Linked DNA regions of Homo sapiens. The protein of the gene in region 2 interacts with the protein of the main gene of each other region in a pairwise test. Each region holds a gene or a part of one and is shown on either strand. Other genes may lie near its edges.

What was found.
Region 1: the proteins of HIBADH (region 2) and TM6SF2 interact in binary tests that used the Homo sapiens proteins (3 or more experiments, as listed by UniProt).

What each region holds. Positions count from the first base shown.
Region 1 is NC_000019.10:19,266,417-19,270,333, reverse strand, and holds part of TM6SF2 (transmembrane 6 superfamily member 2), read left to right. Parts: intron 1-57; coding exon 58-161; intron 162-564; coding exon 565-647; intron 648-1,579; coding exon 1,580-1,704; intron 1,705-2,246; coding exon 2,247-2,348; intron 2,349-2,620; coding exon 2,621-2,713; intron 2,714-3,724; coding exon 3,725-3,844; intron 3,845-3,917. UniProt on the Homo sapiens protein: Regulator of liver fat metabolism influencing triglyceride secretion and hepatic lipid droplet content. May function as sterol isomerase.
Region 2 is NC_000007.14:27,530,234-27,534,150, forward strand, and holds part of HIBADH (3-hydroxyisobutyrate dehydrogenase, mitochondrial isoform 1 precursor), read right to left. Parts: intron 1,116-3,917; coding exon 959-1,115; intron 1-958.

The DNA.
Region 1 (3,917 bases), on a different chromosome or scaffold from region 2:
ACGACCAGGGAGCCCCCTACCGCACTGCCCGTCTGAGTCTCCCACCTGCCCCCACAGGGAGAGCCATACCTGCGCACAGCGCACGGAGTCTTCATCTGCTACTGGGATGGCACTGTTCACTACCTCCTCTACCTGGCCATGGCCGGCGCCATCTGCAGAAGGTGCAGGAGGCAGGGAGAGGGTGGCCCCTGACCCTGGGAGAGAAGTTGCATCCTCAGATGGGGTCCCAGGGCAGGGTGGAGCCAGAAGTGTCTGTAGGAGAAATCAGGACGCCTCTCTAGGGCTCCAGCCAGGGGTGGCCAGGAGAAGGTTCCAGGGAACGTCTCAGGTGTAGGTGGTGGCCTAGCATTGCTTACATCCACCCTGTGCCTGGGCAGCCACTTCTGTTCTTGGACAGAGGGTCTCACTGTTATTTCCCCGTTCAACTCCCTGTTGTCCCTTCCATCCTGGGCAAAACTGAAAGGGACCCGGAGCTGGGAAACCCACGGTGGTCTCCAGGCCCTGGCTGGGGCTCTGAGATTACGGAGTGACTACCTGCTGGTCACCCCTCCATCCCCTGCTCAGGAAGAGATACCGGAATTTTGGACTCTACTGGCTGGGTTCCTTCGCCATGAGCATCCTGGTGTTCCTTACAGGAAACATTCTTGGTAAGGACAAGGCTTTGGGAAATCCAGGTTCTCTTGGGCTTGGTCACTGCCCTGCACCTAGAAGCACCCCCATTGGATCCTCCATCCCTTCCCTGATGTCTGCAGAGGCCCCACCTCCCTCTTTGCGTGTCCACAGCCTCAGTCAGCAGCCCACCCCTTTCCGGTCCCTGTTTCCTCTTGGAAGGCGGGAGAACCCAACTCTGCTTCCTCCCCAGGCAATGGTTCCCAGCCCCAGGGGTTTGACCCAGAATGGTCTTGACACAGGAAGGGAATTTTAGGGTGAATCTTGGGGACAGGGTGAAAGCTTCAGGGGTAGGTCTTGGGAGGTAGAGCAGTGAAGGCAGTCTGGGAGGTTGGCATGGCAAAACCTCAGCAAAGGGAACACTCAAGGTGTATTTGTAGGAAGCAAAGAACCCACTGGAAGGTAGGATCCATATTCAGAAGGTAAATTGAGGCAGGCTAGGCTAAGGAGTATGGACATCATCCTGTGGGCACTAGGGAGCCATGGAAGGTGGTGGAGCTTGAATGAGGATGGTATTTCTGAATCAAGATGTCCAGCCAGAGAGGCCACGTGTGGTGGCTCATGCCTGTAATCCTTATGTTGCTCAGGCTGGTCTCCAACTCTCGGCTCAAGCAATCCACCTGCCTCATCAATCACTTGAGCCGTGGAGATCAAGATCAGCCTGGGCAGCATGGTGAAACCCTGCCTATACTAAAAGTACAAAAATTAGCCAGGTATAATCCCAGCTACTCAGGAGGCTGAGACAAGAGAATTGCTTGAACCTGGGAGGCAGAGGTTGCAGTGAGCCAAGATTGCATCACTGCACTCCAGCCTGGGTGACAGAGCAAGACTCTGTCTCAGAACAAACAAACAAACAGATGTCCAGCAGGGTTCTGGCATGGCTGATGCCCTCTCTCCTGCACCATGGAAGGCAAATACAGCTCCGAGATCAGGCCTGCCTTCTTCCTCACCATCCCCTACCTGCTGGTGCCATGCTGGGCTGGCATGAAGGTCTTCAGCCAGCCCCGGGCGCTAACCCGCTGCACCGCCAACATGGTGAGTGCCTTACCCCTCTTAGGCCTTGTCCCAATGTGCCTGAACTTTCCCCGTGTCAGTTGCTTTTGGTCAAAGACTTAATTTCTGTGGAAGGTTCTCCTTTGTCACAAGAAAGAAGGGAGGGCTGGGTGCGGTGGCTCATGCCTGTAATCCCAACATTTTGGGAGGCCAAGGCATGAGGATCGCTTGAGCCCAGGAATTGGAGACCAGCCTGGGCAACACAGCCAGATTTTTTAACTCTACAAAAAGTTAAAAAATTAGCCAGATGTGGTGGTGCATGCCTGTGGTCCCAGCTATTCGGGAGGCTGAGGTGGGAGGATCACTTGAGCCCAGGAGATTAAGGCTGCAGTGAGCTGAGACTGTGCTGCTTCACTCAAGCCTGGGCAACAGAATGAGACCCTGTCTCAAAAAAAAAAAAAAAGAAAAAAGAAAAAAAAGAAAAAAAGAAAGAAGGGAGGAGCCTTAGGAACCTTTATTGAGTACCTACTGAATACTTGTCATTGACTACCTCTCATGCTGTCTGTTTCTCTCCCCTGGGCCAGGTGCAAGAGGAACAAAGAAAGGGACTCCTGCAGCGTCCGGCTGACCTGGCCCTTGTCATATATCTCATCCTTGCTGGCTTCTTCACTCTGTTCCGGGGCCTGGTGAGTCTGCGCTGGTTGGTCTCCCCCTCCCCTGCCACCAGTCTCCCTTCCCTGACCCACCTCTCCCACACTGCCCTTCCTGTTTGATCATCCAAGGAAGTTCTTCATCAAGTCTAACCTGAGTGTTCCATGACAAAGCCCCATTTCTCCCAGCCAGCCCAACTTGAGCTGGGCTGGGAGAGGCCAGAGCAAGGGGTGTGGGCCTGGGAGGGTGGGGGAGGCTTCCTGTGGGAGGTATGTCTGAGGGTTCTTGGTATGTCTGTCTGCTCCAGGTGGTGCTTGATTGCCCCACAGATGCCTGCTTTGTCTATATCTACCAGTATGAGCCATACCTGCGGGACCCTGTGGCCTACCCTAAGGTGCAGGTGAGAGGGGAGCGGGGAGAAGACCACACCCCTGCCATGGGTAGGGGTCCACTGGGCCTCTTTGAAGCAGGTGCCAGAAGCACAACTCAAACAGGCAGAAGCCCATATGGAATTTACTGTCCTACCAAAAAAGGACAGATGTGGTCTTCAGGTATGGCTGGATCCAGGTGCTCAAGGTGCAGACTCTGGGCTCTTCTTTTCTTTTCTTTTCCTTTCTTTTCTTTCTTTCTTTTTCTTTTTTTTTTTTTTTTTTAAACAGAGTTTTGCTCTTGTGGCCCAGGCTGGAGTGCAATGGCATGATCTCGGCTCACTGCAACCTCCACCTCCTGGGCTCAAGTGATTCTCCTGCCTCAGCCTCCCAAGTAGCTGGGATTACAGGCGTGAGCCACCATACTCAGCTAATTTTGTATTTTTAGTAGATACGGGGTTTTGCCATGTTGGTCAGGCTGGTCTCGAACTCCTGACCTCAAGTGATCCACCCACCTCGGCCTCCCAAAGTGCTGGGATTACAGGCATGAGCCACCATGCCCGGCCTCTGAGCTCTGCTTTCTTTGCATGGCTTCACTCTCAGGCAGTCCCTTTATGGGGTGGCAGAGACAGCCTGTGGCAGCTTCAGGCTTCCATGCACCCCACTCAGCCACCCCAGAGCAATGTGAGCCCTTATTACCCCCGAGCTTAAGCACAAGTCTTAGGCAGGCTCAGATTGGCCCAGCGTGAATCACTTGCCCATCCCTTACTGAGCATCATGGACAGGGGGCTGGAATGCTCCGACTGGCTAGGCCAGGGTCGCATGCCACTTTCAGAGAAAGGTTAGTAGGTTTGGTGTATGTGTTCGGGGGTTGGGGGCAAGGATCCCCAAGGGAAATAGAGGAGCACTTTGCAGAGAGCCTGGGTGGGGTCTGAGGCCATCCAGATCCTTCCTCAGGGCCTCCACCTCAGGGGTCTCAGGAGACCCACCTGGGGTAGCTGCTCATCTCACAGGCTGGTGCCCCTCTCCTCCCGCCCCTGCAGATGCTGATGTACATGTTTTATGTCCTGCCTTTCTGCGGCCTGGCTGCCTATGCTCTCACCTTCCCTGGTTGCTCCTGGCTTCCAGACTGGGCCTTGGTGTTTGCTGGAGGCATCGGCCAGGTGAGGTGGCGGATGGGTGGGTGAGCAGGCATGTGGGAGGGAATTTCTGTCTACTCATCAATGCCTTTGGTGT
Region 2 (3,917 bases):
CTCACTCTGTTGCCCAGGCTGGAGTGCAATGGTGCTATCTCAGCTGACTGCCATCTCCACCTCCCGGGTTCAAGCGATTCTCCTGCCTCAGCCTCCTGAGTAGCTGGGCTTACAGACACGCACCACCACGCCCGACTAATTTTTTTTATTTTTAGTAGAAACTGGGTTTCACCATGTTAGCCAGGCTGGTCTCGAACTCCTGACCTCAGGTGATCTGCCCTCCTCGGCCTCCCAAAATGCTGGGATTAAAGGCATGAGCTATCGCGCCTGGCCGTATTCTTACTTTTTAATCAGGAAAAACAAACAAACAAACAAACAAACAAAAACCAACCCTCAACTGGGAGAAAATAAGCACTGCAGAAATCTGAAAGTTAGCTGGTCTAAAAATTATTTTCTGTAGTTGAGAACATAGACTTTCTAAAGTTGAGATCTCAAATAAGAGAAGGATGACAGTTTGCTTTTCCAATGACTTAACTAGTTTTTATATATAAATCCATATATTAAAATCTTAAAGCAGGAAGATGTATTTGGAAATCTATTATCAATGGGAAAATCCTCTCTTCGTGATGCATATATGCACTGCCAGTGTATTATTAACAATGAGAAAATTCTCACTGTTCTCATTTAAGAAGTTGGTAAATTAACATAAATTAATGGTGAACGAAATTTTACCGGCTCATATAAATAAACCCAAGTGCGCACACACACACACACGCACACACATACACACACACACATGGTCTGGCCCATTCTTCTCAACCAAAAGGCCAGGAATAAAAATGAACAAGATAAGGATTTTCATCTAAGTTAGGTTTTTACTCATTTTCAGTGAGAGTGAATATTCTAGTAATTTTGCCTCTTACCTGAGACATATGCTTTATTAAGAGAAAGAGAAGGAAGGTGTTATTGGACCGTGAAACGTTTTTCCTTCTCTCTTGGGTGTCTACATTTACCATACCTTAGCCATGAGTGTTGTTCCAAATCCACCCTGATAGTTATTAGCCGAGGGAACGCCATCCATCACTCCAGGTACAGGATTATAAGTGTCACTTGACCAACACCGTCCTGAGCTCATATTTAGGATTTTAGCCAGTAGTTTTGGGTCAAGCCCTAACCTGTCAAAGGTCAAAGAAAAGAAGTGTTAAGTGTCAAAATGTACACGTCGTGCGTGACTTATTTATGTATGGGGATGCTCCATCTTCTCTCTCCATTTATTATATGTCTTCTAAAATCTAAGCAGGTTGATACGAGAGTGAAGAATCCAATTTTGAATTATAGAGTACTAAACACTACTGGTTAAATAAGAATATTTTTGAGCCAGGACCATTTTGCATTTGGAGAAAACCTTCTATGTTATCCTATTATTAAGAAAAAATAATATACAATTGCATAAAAATATTGTTGGTTTATCACACTCATGGGTTTTCTAGTCTTTGGACATTACTACATTTATATGTCACATAAGAACCTTAAAACAATATGATAATTTAAATTCTACATTCTTTACCCACAAATGATATATTTCAGAAAGAAATACTGACAGATAAACGATGCATCATGGGAGTCTGTGTGAATGCATTTATATGTATGTTTATTCCTTTAGTTTTTATGAGAATAAATGCAAGAGATGAGCCAGGAGCTGTAAACGAGCTTAAGAAAAGTTATTATAAAAGAAGACTTTTTGCTGCAAACTTTTCCTTATTTATTAAATCTTTATTAGACAATCTTGCTTATGAAGCAAGTCTGCACAGAGTTGTGACATATGCTATCTATTCAGAGACATGCATTATAGTTCTGGGTCAACTGCTGATAAGGTTACTGATCCTGATAAAACAAAGCTTGCCCAAGCAGAAACATCATTTGTTCTATCACTGGGCTGATGGCATAAACGGCTGTTCAATGTGGACCCTAGAAAAAATAATAGAATCAAAATGCTCCATTACTTGGATTCTAAAGATATAATGCAGTTTGGGAAGCACAATTTTGCTAGGTATCACTGAATCAAGTTTCAAATAAAACTTTATTCCTAGCAATTTATTTGGTTTCTTTCATACACAGAGCCATTATGAAACAATTGTCATAAAAGCTTTCCACTTTTTCTTAAAACCAACCTCTTCCAGAAAATAAAAAAAACACTGAAAAGAGACACTTATGTAAATGTTAAACAAACTGTGCATCTTGGCACGCTCAGATTGTTTACTCTGTGTGTCTAAAACACATGCCTGTTTATTTCAAAATCTGAATATCATGGCCAATAAAACATTTTTTCAGATGCTAGAGCAGGGGGCTGAGGCTAACAGCCAAAAATATGTATGGAATTACCACATAATACAACTGTTATGTAATCAGGCTTTCAAGGGGTAGCTGTGGTTCCCAGACTGCTATGTGGCATATCATGTATCTGAATTCATATGGTGGCCCATGTTATAGTGATGGATTTTACTAAGGATTGTAACAGATACAGAAATTCAGTCTAAATTGGCTATCATTCATTCTGTTCAACTGTAGATTCCCAGAGAGAAACCCAACAGTTTCATTCATTCTTTTATAAAGATCCAAGTTCACTGCATGCATAGTATGCTACTGATGCTTGCTTTCTCCTTTTAAATAAGATTAGGCTATCAGTATGCTACTGTAGTATATCACTTAGGAAAAGATAAAGCCAGTGTGCTTAGGGAATAATTGTGAAAAGTAAAATCACAATTAACAATTAGTTAATTTGCTATAACTGCAAAGTACCAAATGTTCAAGAATGCATACATCTAATATGCTCCATAAGGAGAAAATACTTTTAAAGACTCCAAAACGTCACTTTCTCTCTCCATTTGAAATATAATTTCAGGGCTTCCTAACTTAGATCTTTTAAGATGGTTCATCATATTTAAAGCAGCAGAATTCCTTCCTTCTTTCTAATCTACCAGGTTACACTCAGTAGTAGCTCACAAGAGCTTTTACAGCTAAGGAAATTCACTCTTTTCTATAATATTCAACAAAATGGTGAGCAAAGCTAATTATCCTAACTTTGTAAAACCCTACATTTTTCTTGAATGTTCAAGGAAAAGTACTGGTATTGATTGATGGAAACCCTTTCTGGTGAACACATTACTATTTAGAAGCATCCTGAGGGGCACACACAAAAAATCAGGTGGCAGTTGTTTCATTCTCACTTTTCAAATCTGATGCTTCCCCACCGTGCTGATTCCCTTCAGGAGATAGTTATTCCCTCTCCACTTCCCTCCCCCTGCCCCCACCCGCAGCAAAGTGTATCATTAAAAAGAGCAAGTTAGAAGTGTTTTGCATTTCATCTTTCTGAGGATTCGTTCTCTGGCACATACATAACTGACAGTTAAAATTAGACATGATATTAAAATCAGTTACTGAAGTCCTCTGTTTTCCACTGTGCCCAAGGCTTGTAATGGTCTGAAACCAGCTAGAATACACAGTAATTGTCATTCAGAGTCTATCCTAGAACGTCATGCTTCACTGGAGAAGACTGAGTTTCCATTCGAAATCAACAAATTAATCCAAGACAGGTATCTGAAAGGGCAAGTTTAATAGGAAGCAGCTACTGGGCTCTCAACCATGATAAAATGTTATTGCTGTTTCCCTGTAAATTGGCTGGGAACATATGATACTTTCTGCATAAGAGCCCCATTGCTGTTCAGAAGATATACAGCTCAAGCCATCAAAAGAATGACAGTCTGTCAGTCCCCATAATAACTTGCCACTGGATGTGGTTCGAGAGTGCATGCGTGCATGCATGTGGCTTTACAATTGCTGGAATGTTCTCTGATATAAACAGAATGAATTCATCGCTCTGACTGCATATATAATGCGTCTCAAATAAACGTCACTGTGTCAAATCTACTCACCTCTAAAACAAGAATTTTAAATGAGGTTTGGAAGAAGTAAAAATA